2 separate regions of the Homo sapiens genome follow, and region 1 is linked to region 2. The links come from fine-mapping of genetic effects on plasma protein levels. A gene starts in region 2. The other region holds a variant in brackets. All regions are shown on one strand. Distances are from middle to middle.

Evidence for each region. PIP is the posterior inclusion probability: the model's chance that the variant is causal. The UK Biobank Pharma Proteomics Project read protein levels with antibody pairs (Olink). The fine-mapping took linkage between variants from a reference panel, not from the people measured, so its PIPs are less certain.
Region 1: its variant is fine-mapped to the plasma level of the PCDH7 protein (UK Biobank, PIP 0.97).

The regions. Positions count from the first base shown.
Region 1 is chr4:31,151,235-31,160,801 of GRCh38, forward strand. No RefSeq gene overlaps it. Among named protein-coding and RNA genes, the nearest start is that of LINC02497, 15 kb to the right of the region's middle. The variant C/CAT (reference allele first, on the strand shown) is at 3,691.
Region 2 is chr4:30,714,393-30,723,868 of GRCh38, forward strand. It overlaps PCDH7 (protocadherin 7), which reads left to right and starts at 5,977. Exons shown (of 3, transcript NM_001173523.2): 1 at 5,977-9,476. The coding sequence starts at 7,031. LOC124900844 reads right to left here and starts at 4,729. Exons shown (of 1, transcript XM_047416545.1): 1 at 2,239-4,729. The coding sequence starts at 3,515. The coding sequence ends at 2,949. RefSeq lists an enhancer at 6,786-7,496.

The DNA of each region.
Region 1 (9,567 bases), 440 kb after region 2:
ACATTCATTATTATTCATGCTTAAAAGTTAAATTATGAGGTCACCCTAGTTATCAGAGTCTTTCCTTCTCGTTGACCAGCTTCCCATTGACTAGTTATGTAAAAAATCTCACCCCTAGATCACAAAAGTTTGACTCTGTAAGAGAAGCAGGTCATTGTGCACAATGTCCTCAGGCCACTGGAAAAAAAGCTCATATCCTGATGCGGTAATCTTCCTCCACTTAAAAAGTTAAAAAAATAAAAAAGAGTGTCTTATTCTAGAAGTGCCCACTTGGGATTAGAGGTGGGAGATTTGCTATTTTCTATTGGATCAAAAACTTTAACATACTTGTATTTAAATGTTATGGATAAGTTCTCATTATATTGTGTTAAATAAAAAAATGGTACGAAGTTTCATATCTAGAGCATGATATGCACAAAATAAAAAGAAGAAATACTGTGATGAACATAACAGCATTCTTGGAGCTTATTTATAATTATTGTTTGTGTTTTCCAAATTGTACACAATGAATATATTTTATAATAACAATATGAAAAAGTGGACATTTTGATAATATTTTAAAATTATGGGTAGTTCAGTGAATAAACTTAAAAATAGTAAAAGACACCACTTAATGTTAAAGCATTGGACATTCTTTATCTGATCATGCCCCCAAAGAAAACTGTATTTCAAAAATGTTAAATTATCATTCTCTTATGACATTTCACATTAGCTATTTTCTATCCCAGCAAAGTGAATGATATGCTAAATAACTTCAGAGATTGTTTTTAAACTAATGCAAAGGAAATAATATTCATGTGAAGGTTAAATGTGAACACTTTTAACTTGGTAAATTAAATGTGAGGCTTATGTTTTGAGGGAAGTATTATATAGCACACAATCATACCAAAAAATATCAACTACTATAACAAACCTATTATTTAGGTGATCAACATAGAAACTATGAATAGGTGCTTCGGCATCTTCACTGGATATTTCTATTTGGATTCACCAGTATGACTATCTCTAAAGCCTCAATCTGGGAATTATTATAGATTTCAGCTTTGTTGTAGATGGGACGAGTTGATTTTGTTGAACCTCCAAAAGTGAAGCTATTGAAAAAACTACTATATAAATCTATATCTAGTCTGAGAAACAATATTCTCATTGACTAAAATAATCTGGAAATATAGTTGAAAGCAAAAAGGATAAATTATCAGTTGAATGGAACAGGTACTGAGATACTGTCAGTCCATAGATGATTAAGAAATGAAAAATGGCAATTGAGAATAATGCTACCATGTTGGAAAATTTGCTTCAAGGCTACAGATGTTATTGGCAAAAAGAGGATGAAATGGATGAGCAATCTAGCTTTTATCTAGAGAAAGTCAGCCTCCAGTGAACCATCTTTTTTTGTATGCCCCTGCTATGTCAATTACTGGGGTTCAGAGAGAGATGTTTAGTATACTGCCTATTGACTTCTTTCCTTAAATTGCCTAGAATACTCCAAACTCATTATTTCTATTTTTCTCTATATTTTATTAGATGAAAACAAATACTGTAACAGGTGGTTTGATTTTTCTCTCTGCTTGGGATTTATATGTGCTTCTCAGCCAGCATTTTGTTATCCTCAGCTTTAAAGGCTCTAAGTCATCAGAGAATCACTCCCACTTGACTATAAATATAAGTCAGATGATTATAATGACAGTGTCACAGGTGGAAAAATAATCTTCATTCTATTGTAGTCAAGCCCAACACTGACAAAGAATCATACATTGCGTCGGTGTTTCAATTAAGATGAAGGTACCAATTTATACTTTAACTCTTCAAGAAGGGCAAGAAGAAATGTATACAGAAGAATATCTTCAGGGTTAATTTCAACCTGAGTTGCAAATATAAAATCCTGATTATTCAGGATAGTGAATCAAAGCTGAATTACCGGAAGTTAATTTGGATTCAGCATTTGCATTGCTTGTTTTCACTGGACTCACTACAAAAAAAAAAAAAAGGACTTGTTCTCTGGCATACTTGTTCATGCACACCATGATGGGAAAGAATTCCTGGAGGTATCACTCTTCTCACACAGATTTACAATCTCCAGCATGGAGGAATTAGGTGGAACAGATATATTTCACTCATACCTTGGTCAACGTCTATCTAGGAAAGTCTAGATGTTCCTATTAACTCAACATGTATTTGTATCTGTAATTTGATTCTGTTTTAACCAATATGAAGTCCTGCTTATAACTGTGTGAGGCAGAGGAAAATTTCTAGGCTAAGATTCAAATCAGAAAGCATACTGCAATAAGCAACTTCTTCTCAAGGATGTGATACCAACTCTTAGTCTTCTCCAGGTGTGATACTATCTCTCAGTCTTCTCTGATGACCAATTGGAAAAGTCATCTAGGAAAATGGTCACCATCATTCTAGCTTTTAAAGATGTTTATCCTCATTATCAAATACATAAGAATAATGTAACTAAGGAAACACTTTCTAAAAATGTATCATAACCTTGCAGAAAAGTTGCTCATATCTTTTTCCTGAATTTTTTTTGACTTTGTGCATTTCTTCCATGAAATGTGGATGCAATTTATTAGCTTAACAAAAATAAATGAGACATATACAATGCTGGATGTTTGGGTACAGTGGTGGGCAAGATATGGCTTGCTCCTTCTCTTATAGAGTTATAATCCAGGTGGGAGGTAATCTAGAGGAAAAATTATCAAAATTAACAAGAACCACATAACACTTGGTACTTGGTATGTTCAAAGAAAATAACGGTTCTTTGGACTAATGTGTGGGACATCTATCTTGAATTTCTGCAGCAAGAATAGCCACTGAGAGCAAGAGGCATCCACGATCAGGAATGATAATGCACAGTTGGGAGTAGAAGGATGAAGAGATTTTCAGGCAAAGATAGCAGCATATGTAGGCTGGATGATCTGAGAGAATATGAAGAAGCGAAGAATTGAAAGTGGTTTTTGATGGGGAAATGATAGAGAAGGAATGAACATGAAGGAGGAGTTTGGGGAATGAAGGATGAGGGTGTAGGAGTTAAATGTATCAGGGATAGTGGTAAGAAGATGAACCCCCAAGTGGTTGCTCTCTGTCTCCCTTCCTGGAAAAATATCTGAATATTTTATGATTAAAGAATTGCATTATTTGGTGCCCTCTCAAAGAATTGAGACAGTCTAAGGTAGTCTCTATAGTTGTGAGAAGTACGAAAGTTCAGGGTCTATCTCAGCAGCTGAAAAGCCTCCCCTCATGGAACTGAGTGGTTATTCATTATGCCATCCAGGTTTAACACTTCTATTCATTCATAGCTGTGATGGTTAATACTGAGCGTCAACTTGATTTGATTGAAGGATGCAAAGTATTGATCTTGGGTGTGTCTGTAAGGGTGTTGCCAAAGGAGATTAACATTTGAATCAGTGGCCTGGGAAATGCAGACTCACCCTAATCTGGGTGGGCACCATCTAATCAGCTGTCAGCATGGCCAGAATATAAAACAGGCAGAAAAACGTGAAAAGGCTAGATGGTCTTAACCTCCCAGCCTACATCTTTCTCCCATGCTGGATGCTTCCTGCCCTTGAACATCAGACTCTACATTCTTCAGCTTTGGGACTCAGACTGACTTCCCTGTTTCTTAGCTTGCAGATGGCCTATTGTGGGACCCTTGTGATTTCATGAGTTAATATTACTTAATAAACT[C/CAT]ATATATATATATATACACACACACACACATATATACGTATACATACATACACACACATATATACGTATATATATGTGTATATATATACATATATATACACACACATATATATACGTATATATACACACACATATATATGTATATCTACACACACGTATATATACATATATACACATATATCTATGTGTATACACACACACATACACACACACACACACACACACACATATATGGTCTATTAGTTCTCGCCCTCTAGAGAATCCTGACTAATAAACTAGCTTAGTCTGTTCAGGCTACTATCACAAAGTGTCATAGACTGAGAGGCTTATAGACAACAGAAATGTATTCCTCACAGTTCTAAAAGTTGGAAGTCTGAGACCAGGGTACCAGCATGGTCAGGTTCTGGTGAGAGCTTTCTTCTAGGTTGCATTTCTTTTGTTTTACTGTATTCTCAGATAACTGAAAGAAGATGAGAGAACTCTCTAGGGTTTCTTTTACAAGGGCATTAATACCATTTATGATGGCTCTACTTTCATGACCTAATTACCTCCCAATCCTTAATACCTTCATATTGGAGATTAGGATTTTAACATATGAATTTGGAGGGAGGCACACAGACATTTAGTCCTTAATAATCCCCTTATATCATAGATTCCTTGATGTCTTCTTGGCCACAGCTATGACTTGGCTCATCTTTGTCTCTGCTTCCATAATTCCTATTGTGGCCTTAGTTGTTCTTTTTAGACATGCTTCCTCCAACAGGGTACCCACTAGCCACAAGTAGCTATTTAAATCTGAATTTAATTCAATTAACCTTCTCCAGCATGTGTTCCATTGGACAGGCTTGTTACATTCTGACAGTAGACAGAATGATTGAGTGCATAGACTGCTGGTCATCCTACTGGCTGCTTTCAGGTCATCCTGCTGCCATCAGTTGAGTGCAGGATAAGGTGAAACAAAGTATGATGATACAACCACAGGAAATTCTTAAATCTGCTGCTTTGGGCCATAGAAAGAGATGACAGGCATTATATCTAGTAAAAGTGACATAGATAGATATGGTTATAAATAAAATCATAGTGACTGGTCTGTCTGAAGCAGCTGGGGAAGCTGATAAAGAAGGTTCTTTAAAAGTCAGCATGGAAAGATTAAGTGGAGGTAAGAAAACCAATAAGGGGGAAGATAAGTATCTCAAGCACAGGGAACAGTAATGCTAAAGGTGAAATATATGTAAACAGAAAAATCAGAGGTAGTGCCTGCAAGTATTCAGAATTCCTAGAGCACAATGAGAAGAGGGGCAGGGTCCCTGTCATCCTATAATACAGCAGTTTTGTAAGTGCTCTGCTTCTTAGCCCCATTTTTCACATCCACGTTGTGTATGATTAAAACTCCCTTACCTACTGTTAGACACATCACTAATGGTGGACATCTGTTCATTTCATCAACCAAGCCTTTCTTCTGCCATCTCTTGGCAAAATCACCTCAGTTTTCCTTTGCCAGCTGTCTGTGGTTAAGTGTCTCTATTTTCCCCTGGCCACATACTGGGTAGGGAATTCAAGTTGGGCCAATTTGATCCTCTCTCCAATTTGGAGGAGAACCCAGAGGCAGAAAATGGTTCAAGCTGATTGATTCTAATTGTGAAGCTCTAACCATTTTCCTTATCTCAGCAGCCTTGAGTCCCAGAGCTGTTTCCAAGGGGCCCTGAAAGAGTTTACCTAGCATCTGCCTTTTAGTGAGCATTTTAATCCTAAACCTGGAATACCTGCTTAATGGTATTGACTATAGGATCAAAAGCATGAAAATGCAGAAAACAAATGCATATTCCCAGCATTCTTTTCATATTGTTGTATCATCTGACCTCTCCAGTTGTATCTGCCCCAATGTTTCCCATGGCTACTCTGCTCTAGTTACTCATGTTTATTGTTTCTGAACTTGCCTTTTATATTTAAATCACTAAGCCATTTTTACACGTTATTCCCTCATCACAAAACATGTGCTTCCTGAAAACCTACTCAAATCCTGCCCATGGTACAAGGCTTACATCAATCTTAGATTCCCTAGTACCAACTTTGATTGTTTCAACTCAAAAATCATCTCTCTATTCCTCGAAACTCTGATTGAGGAGAGGAATATCATTTTTTCATTTATCCTTTCCTATATGAGACAGAGTTTTATAAAACACTCTTAGTTTCCTGCCTCATATTCCACTCCTCCTCACAGCAGAATGACTTAATTTGTGGATGAGAAACAGACATTAGCCCATTTTATTTCTTGAATCCACACCTTTTAAAATAAAAAGTATTAAATAAAAAAATAAAACAAAAAAATACAACAAAAACAATGACAAAAATCAAAAGTATTGACCACAGTGGAATAATTCAATCTTTCACCTTCCTTATTGAAATATTTGCTTCTTGTATTTATATCCCATCTTACAGAACTTGTAGACAGAAAATTAAAATGTTTCTCAGTATCTTTTCCATATCTCTTATTATGCAAATGCTAATGAGAAAATATTGGCACCCAAGACTCTGATGGATAAAATCCTTACCATGATATCTTGTCTTTGTTTTTGAGGTCTCCATCTTAAGAGAAACTATGTTCCAGAACTAAATGATTTCTAGAGTGACACTACATGTAGTTATAGAATAATTCTTGGAAGTAATTGAACACACTTTCTGCTAAATCATTCAGTATTTCAACAATTTCAGTGTTCACTAATGCACTAATGTTGAGTGACTGGTTGCAGATTAATAGGTGTTTTTATTTACTACTCACAAAAAGGTACTATGATTTATAGTAATGCCAAGAGTCAAAAAAAATAGATCATAATACTCTTTTTTGAGACTGTTTCACTATTTATGATATAATTTGACATAGCTTTGAATATGTGTTTCAGAATCTGTAATACTTAAGAATTAATACCCATAGTGTTTCTTTGAGAATAATATAAATTAATATATGCCAAAATTTTATTTGTTGTAAACATTTTTAGAATCATTACTTATCTTATCTTACATCTTTTACTGAATTTATGTAAAGAAGTAATTCCACTTACATCTCTAAGCTGGGAGAGAAGAGGTGGCTGTTTTATTCTGCCAAAGGAAAAACAAAAAAAGACTGTTGGGCTCCTTCTTGAAATTTTGTGTGAATTTTGCTTAGCCACTCCTGTGTTGTAAAATTAGTCAGTAAGGGTATCATATATGTCAAAACTTCTTCCATCTAAACTTAAGTAGGCTAACTAAGAGAATAAGGTCTCTGATTTGCATTTTGCAAAAACGGAACTCTACTAATGCAAGAGAAGCAATCATGACTTTGAGGATACTCTTTCAAGGAATGATGTACAGTCAGCACTGTCTTTTACAGCCAGCACAATAAATGATCTACAAGAGAAAATTTTAAATGACATTTCTACTGTAATTCCCATATGCCTTCTCTGTTGTTCTGGATATTTAATTTTAACACTAGACTTTCTTCTTCAGATCCTTTTTTCTTCTCTTCATGTTTTAATTCAACATGTATGTATGTCTACAGTAAAAGAAAGGTAAAATTTAAACATGTGATTATGTGATCACTCTTGGGTCACTCTGTGCAATTCAATTACAGCTAATTTTCAAATTAAAATAAATTAATTTACTATATTTATTAAACACACACGTATACATATGTATATGATTTTCTATATGTATGGAACTATTCCAAGAGTTTTATGTTTATTAACTTATTTAACCTTCAAAACAATCTTATGAGAATGAATCTTACCATCTTACTTTTCAAGTGAGTAAACTGAGACACAAAAAAGTTCAGCAAATTGCTCAAGGTTACCAACAGTGGATTACAAATTCAAACCCAAGACTTTGGCCTCCAGAGTCTGTGCCCCTCGCCACATGATTTACCCTTCATTTATTAATAAAAGTGAAGTCTCATTTGCTCCTGCTCTTCAGACGTATAAGGGTAGGTGACTCTTTACACACAACCTGTCAGAAGCTAAAGATAGACTTTCTAAATCTCTGAATGAATGTATCTTTCAAAAAATATTTTCCATAAAACAAACACATTTCATTATCTTGCATAATCTACTGCTGCTTCAGAGGCTGGGAGAAGCTGACTTCAGGAGTGGTCCCAGGTGAATAGGGTACAGAGCTTTGTGGAACTGCGCCTTTGCCAGGAGTCTTAAATAATTCTGGAGATTCTGTGAGCACAGTTTTGTGGCCTATTTAATACTACTGGGTTTCTGTAAATTACAGCTTCTATGTCTGTTTGTTTATAATCGATATGTTGCAAATTTTAAAGCTGTGATTGATAAAAATTCAAGATATCAGGTTTGCAAAAAAAATAAACTCAGGTCAGTCAATATGAGTATTCAAGTCCTAGAAATGTGTGTCATATGGTCAAGTTGAAGTTGAACTTGATTGTGGATAATATTAATTTACTAACTGAATACTCACTAATTTGAAGAGGGAAGGTATAATTTTTATTTTTGTAATCCTAAGTATGAATTCTGATGGCCTTTATATTATAGGATCAACAAATAGACAGGCTTTCCAGCTAGATTCTAAGTTCCGAGAGGACTTAGGACAACCTGTCTACATTATTCAATATTATATCACAATAAACTAACCCAGTTTATGACACATAGTTGAAGCCCAGTAAGATGTGAAACATGAAAGAAAGAAGAGAAGAAGGCAGGAAGGAAGATAGCCCTTTAACTAATTTACAGAAAGCATCATTGAAAATGTGTTCTTAACTGCCGGTTCTATAATGTAATTATCCTCTAAATGAATGGCACCCCAATTTTTATTGTGAGTATGTTCAGAAACTTCAGCCTGTTTTAGAAAGGATTTATTCACAAAATTACTTCTTCATTCTAAACTTTCCCCTGTTATATTGTATAAAAAAGCACTTTGCCACAAGCATCTGTATGCATCTAGAATTTCCATAGGGACAATGTATAAAACTATTTTAGTTAAACACAAGCTTTCTCTCCTTTTTGATTGTGAAGATTCAACTTCTACTATTATAAAACGGAGATAAATATGAATCATATTTAAAGGTTCTAAGACAATGAATACAATAGATTCCACCTAATTAAATTTAGATCTAGGCTCTAAGAAAATTCTGGTTAAGAGTCTCAAACGCAAGTTTGAGTTATTCCATATTCCAGTCAACATTCTCTTTCCTATCCCATTCATTCAACTCTTTAAAAATGTTACCACATGTCCCAGATCCTCATCCAAGGTTTGTTTGGGGTTTTTACACAAATAGTTTTTGTCTTCTAAGATAGAGGCTCTTTTCTATGATTGAAGACATGTCAGCAACTAGAGACTAAGCGGGCTCTTTGGGTCCATTTTGCATTCATGAACCCCTTCAAGCCCGTGGAGAAAAAGTCATCTTGTGATCCTAGCATGACTAATTTATTCTGGGTTGTGGTTACAACACTAGGGGAAAAAAAAAAATCAAATTCTTAGCTTTAGATGTTTTTGCTTTATGCTGTGCCACCATTGGAGATTTTTCTAAAGGCTAATGAGGACAGGACTTGTTTTACACAAGGTTTTCTTGTGAATATGCAGTGGGTGGAGGGATTTGAAGGTTAATGCATGAACGGAGTTCAGTTACCATGCTTTTCCTTGTTTCCAGGCATTTTAGCTGAGTTATTTATACATAGATGCATTAGATGTCCTGTTATTTTGAATAAGTGTCTATTTTTAATTAGGCAAGGTACATAAGCATTTTAATTAGATATCTAAATACATCATCTAAAAATTTTCCCCTCAGAAAATAAAAGAATTTCATTCCTTCTTTATTAAATATAGGGGCAGTAAAATCTTATGAATAGATTTTCAGCTCAAGAGATTGGAATCTTTTTGATATAATAC
Region 2 (9,476 bases):
AAAAGCACTGAAATGGGTATCGAAAAGGTACTACCACTTTCCCAAATCAATGTCAGCCTGAAGTTTACTGAATTCTTCAAGTATTGGTCCTAAGTCAAATTCACAACCAGTCTGACTTATACAGAGTTGAACAATGACTACATACCAGCACCCGTATTTCCCAGGGAAGTGAAATTCCTCTTCCACTTAGGGCTGCCCGGAACTGGTTAATGGCCTCATCTAGCCACAAGGGGGCCAAGAGGTACAATTCCATGTTAGGCCCAGAAGCCACAGTCAGAAATACTTGGGGAAAGTTCTCAATGACTGCCCTATAAGTATCAGCATCTGTCGTTAGAAAATTCATTGCTGCTGAAATAGTCAAATTTCTTATATTTCTCATTCTAGAAACATCCCACATTATGTATTTCCTAATTACAATCAATCAAATTTGTTTGAATAAAGTTTTCTACCGCCTGTTATTCAGAATGAACATAAGAAGTGGCCTAGCTAGGTCGACACAGCCAGGTGCTAAAACTTCTAAAGCTAATACATAATTTTCAACCATTCTTGTTATAAGCAAGGTCATTTGTTTGGGAATTAAATTTGTCCAAGCAATTATAATGAAATTTCTCCCCCAAATCCTTAACATGTTATCTAGCTTAGAGGTCATTATCCACAGCAGTATTTGATATATCCTGCCACGATAGTAAAAATATGCAAATCTCCCAAGTTCGTACTGCAAAGGGCATTGGTAGGTCTAATTTTACCATCAATAGTGAAAGGAGATAGCTTCAGATGACCCTAAATAATAGGATGTACTGCTTTTAACCTATCAAGGGTCTTTTTCCCAGAAGTAATCCAGATTTTATAAAATACTGTGTGCCCCCAACTTACATTTTTGTAAATGTATGAAAATTAATGTAAAGTTGAAAAAATTCATAAACTAATGATCTTGTAAGTAAAAGACAAATGCCAGTTATAGTCACTGACTGGATCTTTTTATGTGTGTCATGACTTGTAAATCTCTGCTATATTGCACATATTTTGGCATGTAAACCTTTAGAAAATGAATAAAAAATCAACTGTCAATATGTGCTAAACTTAAGGTAAAAATCATTTATTCTGTGTTATTTTAAAACCTAAAACACTCTATTGAAATCTGAAAACCAGACAGCGTGTGAGCTAATAAACACTTAAAATTTTATTTTTCAAAGCTTCTTCTTTTTTTTTTTTTTTTTGTAAATGAGATTTTCATATCGGCCTTGTGGAAATGTTTATAGTTATCCAGTAGATAGTATGAATCAACTTAGTTTAGTTTCTGTGTGCTTCTTTTATAGATACACTGTAAAATATAGCTTTGCATATGATTTCTTGATTTAAACAGCACAACTTATTCTATGTCTTGGCTAGAAACCAATTAAATAACCACTGATGCAAGCAGTTATTACCTGCTTAAAAGGAAATCTGTGGTTTCCTTATTTAAACTGATGAGTTTTAATGTCTATCAAAAAGGCTGTTATTGCAATGAATAATTTAGTCATTTCAGTCTACTAAACATGTTAATACTACAAGCATGGATTTAAGGCTGTAAAATATATCTAAAGTTTCTCAGAGTCTCAAGGATCAGAATCATACTTGGAATAGTTATGCACAGATATGTTTACTCTTTCAAGTAATATATGTTTAAAGGACAATCGTTTGTAGTAATTATTTAGAAAAGGAAGACTGAAGTATCAAATTTAGCGAAAGGGGTTAGAGAAATGGTTGATCATAAAGGCCTAGAAAACACGTCTACAGATAGAAGACCCTTTTTAAAAAGATGAAAGGTCAATGGATTTAGAGATATCCGAGTGTCATTTCCTCTGTTTGTCCCTTGGTGGAGTTCTTGAGTTACTTTCTCCTTTTCTGTCAAACTGTTTTTATCTTTCCAGAACTGGCTATCGTGTTTACTGTATTTAACCTTTTTCTCATATTATTGTGAATACAGCGTCTATTATAAATGAAAGGCCCCCTGAGATCACATCTCCAGCATCTACTTTGTATTCTTAACCATAAACTTTTGTTGTAGTTACTTCTCTTACTGTCTTTTCTTGAGGCTTGAACTACATCAGGGACCCTGAATGCTATTTTTCAGTTCAGCCACTGAAATTTCTTAACGGCAAAACAGGTTTAAGCAAGCGAGGTTAGTAGGTAAATTAAAAAAAAAAAATCTACTGAATATTTTAAGTTTAGGGTAAGATTTCTGGCACAGAAAATGAATCGTTTGTCAAGGTTTTATTAAATGCATATTAGCACGGGATGATATTTATATTTTAATCAATTTCATTTTTTACATCTTGATTTCAAAGGGGTATTTCCTTTTATTGTTCTTTTTTAAAAAGCCACTAAAGAAAAAACAGAAATCTCCATTTCAACATTCCCTCAAACATTTTGCTTCCTACATGCGATGACGTCTAATCACTCTGATCGATGCAAGCTTTAGGGCACTGATCTCATTTTCTCTCTCCAGTTCTGGCCGCCAAAGCAGCAGCAGCAGCAGCAGCAGCAGCAGCAGCAGCAGGCTCTTTAATTTATTGCAGGCGGTTACACTTTCGATCCCATTTCCTTCTGAACCCTTTCCTCTCAGGTTGAGTAGATAAATGCAGCCTCGGGTCTGAGAAGCCGGGGGGGGGGGGGGGGGGGGGTTGGTGGGTGGGAGCGAAGCCGGATATCACATTCCCTCGGTGAGGTCTGGTACCGGGGGGGATTAAGTCTCCCGGTTCCATTTAATGAAATTGCTGAGCACTTGTGACACTGGCTCTAAGACTGCGGAAATGGGGCGGGGGTGGGAGAAACTGCTTCTCTCTTCATTCATCCTCTGCGCCGGCGAGAGGAGAGAGTGTCAGCCCCTAGAGAGGGGGCGGAAGAGGACTGGGAGCTCCAGCCGCCGCAAGGGCGCCCCGAGGGCTCCTCTCACCTCCCCCGTACCCCTACCCCGCCCATTTCCTTTGCTTGCCCAGAACGGCGCTGCAGGGCAAAGCCGCCGCCACTTCTTTGCTGCTCTGGCAGAAAGGTCGGAGCCTGGGACTGATGGGGGTGGGAGCAAAGCCAGCAGGCTTCTTGGCCCCCGCAGTCTGTCCTCGCTGTTCTCCATGCAGCACACGTCGGACCCATTTCCCACGCTGGCTTGGCTCCGCCGCGAAGTTGGTAGGAATGAGAGTGAGGAGGGCGGGCTGGAGACTTCCTCCCGCTCGCAAAGAGGAAACCACTCCACTGTGAAGGACGCGCTGCAACTCCCTAGTCATCCGGGAAGAAATGTGCAGCGCGCTGAGGAAAAGCCGCCCACTCCTTCGCGCCCCGCTCAAGTGTGCGCCTGGAGAGTGCGCGCCAGAGCCGCGAGCAAATGCTTTGAAGATGCGGAGAGGCTTATTCAAGTTTATGGTCTGGAGAGGGAAGAGGGAGTGCACAACGTTTCTGCCCAAGCGGCTGCCTGAAGTTTGCAAAATCTTAGTAAGGCGATGAGGGGAGTGAGTGCACTGCACCATATTGCCGCGCATCGGAATGCACGGCGCAAGGCCGCGGAGTGGAGACGGCTTCTCCCATTTGCCTCCAACCTGGGAAAAAGGGGAACCAGGGTCGGAGGTTTGGAGAGAGGCAGGCGTTCCGATAAACCCGGGTTCTTGCCAAATGTAAGAGGGATTTGGCTTTACTGCCACTTAGCCGGCCGCGAAGGCGCTGCGGAGCCCACCCCCGCCCCCGGCTCGAGACTGCGGCGGTGCGCACTGAGCCTGCGCGCGGGGCTTTTCTCGCTGATGCTGCAGATACAGAGCTGAGAGGTTCGGGTGCCAGCAGCGGGAGGGTTAGCGGGAAGGCCGGGTTCCCTGCCCTGGCCTCGGAGGAGGAGCCACCACCCCTGGGGTGATGCTACTTTCACAGACTGGAAAATACTCGCCAGCTCCCTGACACACACTTAGACACACTTCCATCCAACGGGCATCTACGATCCCCTGTAGGGAGAGCTTGGAAATCTCTGCCGCCTCTCCCTCCTCATTCCTGTTCCTGCGCCCGCCCAAACAACCGCGCGCTACATCTGCTCGTTGACTTTATTGGTGTTTGTCTTGTTTAAATCATTCTGCCTCGTCACCCAGGTCTCGTAAAGAATACCCACACTGGACAGATTTTATTTTTTCGGCTTTAAATTTTTCTTTGAGGGGAGGCCCTTAAATGTGTATGGATACGTCAGGCGAGCTGAAGACTAAGCAAATCCCAGCAGCGGCCCTTTCTCTCTTTCGAGATGGTAAAAATTCTCCCCAAATACCTACAGTCCGTCTCAGTCGTCTTAATCCTAGCCGGGCCTCTTCGTTTACAGCCACTGAAATAAATGAGTAAATGGCTCAGTTCAAAAACACAACCAGACCTGAGATCTGATGAGGCCGGCTGCGGTGGTCGTGAATGAAAATTGGAGAAGCCTTGCTTCAGGAAATAGGGACAGTCAAGGGACACAAAGTCAAAAGGAGAGATGGGAAAGCTGGGGACACTTTGGTACACAAAGTTGCCATTAAAGTTTATTTCCCTTTTATCCAGATAGGTGACGCTACACTTTGCCAGTTACTAAAGGCTGCAGGTTTCTGCTCAGAAAATAATATCGAGGTTTCCAACATGTGTTTATTCCCCAGGCGCGCACACACGGTCTACCCCCGCAAGCAAGCACGACGACAGGAATGTCAAGCATTTAAACAAAGACAGACATCCTTCACCCTCCACCCACCGCCGCCCCTGCCCCCCGCAACCATCCAAAGTCTGAGCTCCCAAAAAAGGATCTTTCTCCAGCTCTCTGGAGTTTGATGTTCTCTCTTCACTACTGCAGCCCGTCATGGTTTTTCAGAACAGAGTGGCTTTCTGGGCGCTCGTAGGTTCCCCAGGACCCCGATAACCATGTCCTAACCAAGATCCTAAATCGCGAACCGGAGACACTTTCCGGGGGGAGGAGGACGTCGTCTGAGAGGGAGGGAGAAGGAGAAACCTATCCTGACACCAGCTCCGAAAGCTCTCACGCGTGAACTGGGCATTAGTCAAGGGAGGAGGAAATTTACCAGCCCGAGGGAGGGAAAACAAGTCCCCCAGAGAAGACGGCGGTACTCGCTAGGGAGGGGGACTGGGCTTTGGCTTAAAGAGGACTGGCTGGGATTGGGCACACTTTGAGCGGCCCCTGGAGCTGAGGCTGGGCTTTCCCGAGCGCGGCGGCTGGCTGACGCTCCCTCCCGCCTCCTTATCCCGGGCCCTCCTCCCTCGCTCTCTCCTAGTGTGTAGTTTCGGCGGCTCGGCTGCTACTGCCGCCGCCGCTGCAGCAGCAGCGTCAGGGACAAGCCTGATCCGTGAGCGAGCGAGCACCCAGCAGCAACCACCACTTTGGGCAACTTGCGGGTTTCCTGCTCGCGGGTAGCGAACGGGAGATTCCCACTAGCGGTTCAGTGTCTCCGAGCCGCTGCAGCCCGAGGGGCGGCGGGAGCGCCCGCACCAGACTCTCCCAGACGCGAAAAGGGACGAGACAACTGCGGAATTCACCAGCCGTGCCAGGGCACTTCCGAGGCCACAACCGACTGACACTTTTTCTCCCCTTGGCAAACTGGATTTTTTTTTTTAAGCTACTTGGCAGCTGTCTCTGACTCCACCTCCCCCTCCACCCCCGCCCGAAAGCCTTTGGCTTTTCTTCGGAAATCCAGACAGAATTGGGCATCTTTGTTAATTGCCGTTGGGGACGCCCGGCCGTGCGCTTTCGCCGGCTAACGTCGCCTGTGCTCCGAGCCTGGTTTGCTCACCTTTGAACTGCAAAGGGATCAAGTTCAGCTTGAGTTCCCTGCATTGGGAAGGAGAGAGAGCGTGCAAGAGAGCGAGTGGGAGAGGGGGAAAGGGGAAAGGAGAGGAGGGAGGAGAGAGAGGAGGGAGGAGAGAGAAAGGGAGGGAGGGAGGGGAGGGATCGAGAGAGAGCGGGGAGAGAGAGGCTGCAATCTCCTCCCTGAATCGCGCACAGCGCTGCAGATCCCACTGCTCCGACATGCGGGCCGAATGCAGGTGAGAAAAGGCACGGACTCTGCGGCTGCGAACCCAAACTTGGGCACCGCACGGTGCGCACTGCTCAGCCTTCGCCCCCGTGGGCGAAAGGCTGCTGCGGTTTCAGGCGGCTGCTTCGTGACTAATGACCTTGCGCAGAGTTGTTAAGAAAAAAGAGAAACCCGCGCTCTCCGGGGTGAGAAGGGACTGACTCTGGGCGTCTCTGAAGATGGCTCGGGCTTCTCTTTGGCGCGCCGGGGGGACCCTGACACTGACCGCTCTGTGACGCGAGTAGTCTCCCCTGCACCGTGCCCGAAGCGACGTGCCGGGGGATTTTTCATTCTCGATCTGTTGACTGGCTCCCCCGCTGCATGAGCAGAGTCGGAGTTGAGACTGGCTTGTTGCTGGCCCCAGCGCCTGGTGCAGGAAGCGACTCACGTTTGTCTGGGTGGCCGGAGCCGGAGCAGAGCCTGGGTTTGGAGTGAGTGCCTGGAACGTGAATTGGACTCAACTCGAGTAGCAGCAAAGACCAGCGGGCTGGCAGGCGGGGGAGGCTGCAGGCTCATTCCCCACCTCTTCCCAGCCCCACTGCCCGTCTGCCGGAGCGGTTCTGGCCCCTTCCGACAGAGCGGGGACTAGAGCCGGGGATTCTCCGCCCGCTGAGGGGATGACTCTGGGTTGGGGGAGCGCCGAACCCGCGGCGCGCAGTGTCCCGTGAACTGTGAGTACTGCGACTGAACGGCGGCAGGCGAGCGGGCGATTAGCACCCATTGCATGAATTATGAAACAATAACTTTCGGAAGAAGCAGGAGGAAAAAAAGAAGCATCTATCGCTGCCCTCCCACCCCCATTCCCGGCCAACTCTCCACGCCGCTTTTGCCCCCTCCCTCCCCTCCCTCTCGCTCCTTCCTTTCCGGGAGAGGGGAGAGGACTCGGGGGAGGGCAGGCGGCCGGCCCCGGAGGAGGGGGGCGCCGAGGGGGCTGTGGTTAGAAGGAGCAGTAGCAGCAGCAGCAGGAGAAGATGCTGAGGATGCGGACCGCGGGATGGGCGCGCGGCTGGTGCTTGGGCTGCTGCCTCCTCCTGCCGCTCTCGCTCAGCCTGGCGGCCGCCAAGCAGCTCCTCCGGTACCGGCTGGCCGAGGAGGGCCCCGCCGACGTCCGCATCGGCAACGTGGCTTCAGACCTGGGCATCGTGACCGGATCGGGTGAGGTGACTTTCAGCCTGGAGTCCGGTTCCGAGTACCTGAAGATCGACAACCTCACTGGCGAGCTGAGCACGAGCGAGCGGCGCATCGACCGCGAGAAGCTGCCCCAGTGTCAGATGATCTTCGACGAGAACGAGTGCTTCCTGGACTTCGAGGTGTCGGTGATCGGGCCCTCGCAGAGCTGGGTGGACCTGTTTGAGGGTCAGGTCATCGTGCTTGACATCAACGACAACACGCCCACCTTCCCGTCGCCCGTGCTCACGCTCACGGTGGAGGAGAATCGGCCGGTGGGCACACTTTACCTGCTGCCCACAGCCACCGACCGCGACTTCGGCCGCAACGGCATCGAGCGCTACGAGCTGCTCCAGGAGCCCGGAGGCGGCGGCAGCGGCGGCGAGAGCCGGCGCGCCGGGGCGGCCGACAGCGCCCCCTACCCCGGGGGCGGCGGGAACGGCGCGAGCGGCGGCGGCTCGGGAGGCTCCAAGCGGCGGCTGGACGCATCAGAGGGCGGCGGCGGCACCAACCCCGGCGGCCGCAGCAGCGTGTTCGAGCTGCAGGTGGCGGACACCCCGGACGGCGAGAAGCAGCCGCAGCTGATCGTGAAGGGGGCGCTGGACCGCGAGCAGCGCGACTCCTACGAGCTGACCCTGCGAGTGCGCGACGGCGGCGACCCGCCTCGCTCCTCGCAGGCCATCCTACGGGTCCTCATCACCGACGTGAACGACAACAGCCCCCGCTTCGAGAAGAGCGTGTACGAGGCCGACTTGGCTGAGAACAGCGCCCCGGGGACCCCCATCCTGCAACTGCGCGCAGCCGACTTGGACGTGGGGGTCAACGGGCAGATCGAATACGTGTTCGGGGCGGCCACCGAGTCGGTGAGGCGGCTGCTGCGCCTTGACGAGACGTCCGGCTGGCTCAGCGTCCTGCACCGGATCGACCGCGAGGAGGTGAACCAGCTGCGCTTCACGGTCATGGCCCGCGACCGCGGGCAGCCCCCCAAGACCGACAAGGCCACCGTGGTCCTTAACATCAAAGACGAGAACGACAACGTGCCGTCCATTGAAATCCGCAAGATTGGGCGCATCCCCCTCAAGGACGGGGTGGCCAACGTGGCCGAGGACGTTCTGGTCGACACCCCCATCGCTCTGGTGCAGGTGTCCGACCGAGACCAAGGCGAGAACGGGGTGGTCACCTGCACCGTGGTGGGCGACGTGCCCTTCCAGCTCAAGCCAGCCAGCGACACCGAGGGCGACCAGAACAAGAAAAAGTACTTCTTGCACACCTCGACCCCTCTGGACTATGAGGCCACCCGGGAGTTCAACGTGGTCATCGTGGCGGTGGACTCAGGCAGCCCCAGCCTCTCGAGCAACAACTCCCTGATTGTCAAGGTGGGAGACACCAACGACAACCCGCCCATGTTCGGCCAGTCGGTGGTGGAGGTTTACTTCCCTGAGAACAACATCCCGGGCGAGAGGGTGGCCACGGTGCTGGCGACAGACGCAGACAGCGGTAAGAACGCCGAGATCGCCTACTCGCTGGACTCCTCTGTGATGGGGATCTTTGCCATCGATCCCGATTCTGGGGACATCCTGGTCAATACCGTGCTGGACCGCGAGCAGACTGACAGGTATGAGTTTAAAGTTAACGCCAAAGACAAAGGCATCCCCGTGCTGCAGGGCAGCACTACGGTGATTGTGCAGGTGGCTGATAAAAATGACAATGACCCTAAGTTTATGCAGGACGTCTTCACCTTTTATGTGAAAGAAAACTTGCAGCCCAACAGCCCTGTGGGGATGGTCACCGTGATGGATGCTGACAAGGGGCGGAATGCAGAGATGAGCCTGTACATAGAGGAGAACAATAACATTTTTTCTATTGAAAATGACACGGGGACCATTTACTCCACAATGTCTTTTGACCGGGAACATCAGACCACATACACTTTCAGAGTCAAGGCTGTGGATGGGGGAGATCCTCCCAGATCTGCCACAGCTACAGTCTCGCTTTTTGTGATGGATGAAAATGACAATGCTCCCACAGTTACCCTTCCCAAAAACATTTCCTACACTTTACTGCCACCTTCGAGTAATGTCAGGACAGTAGTAGCTACAGTGTTGGCAACAGACAGTGATGATGGCATCAATGCAGACCTGAACTACAGCATTGTGGGAGGAAATCCCTTCAAGCTGTTTGAAATTGATCCCACTAGTGGTGTGGTTTCCTTAGTGGGAAAACTCACCCAAAAGCATTATGGCTTGCACA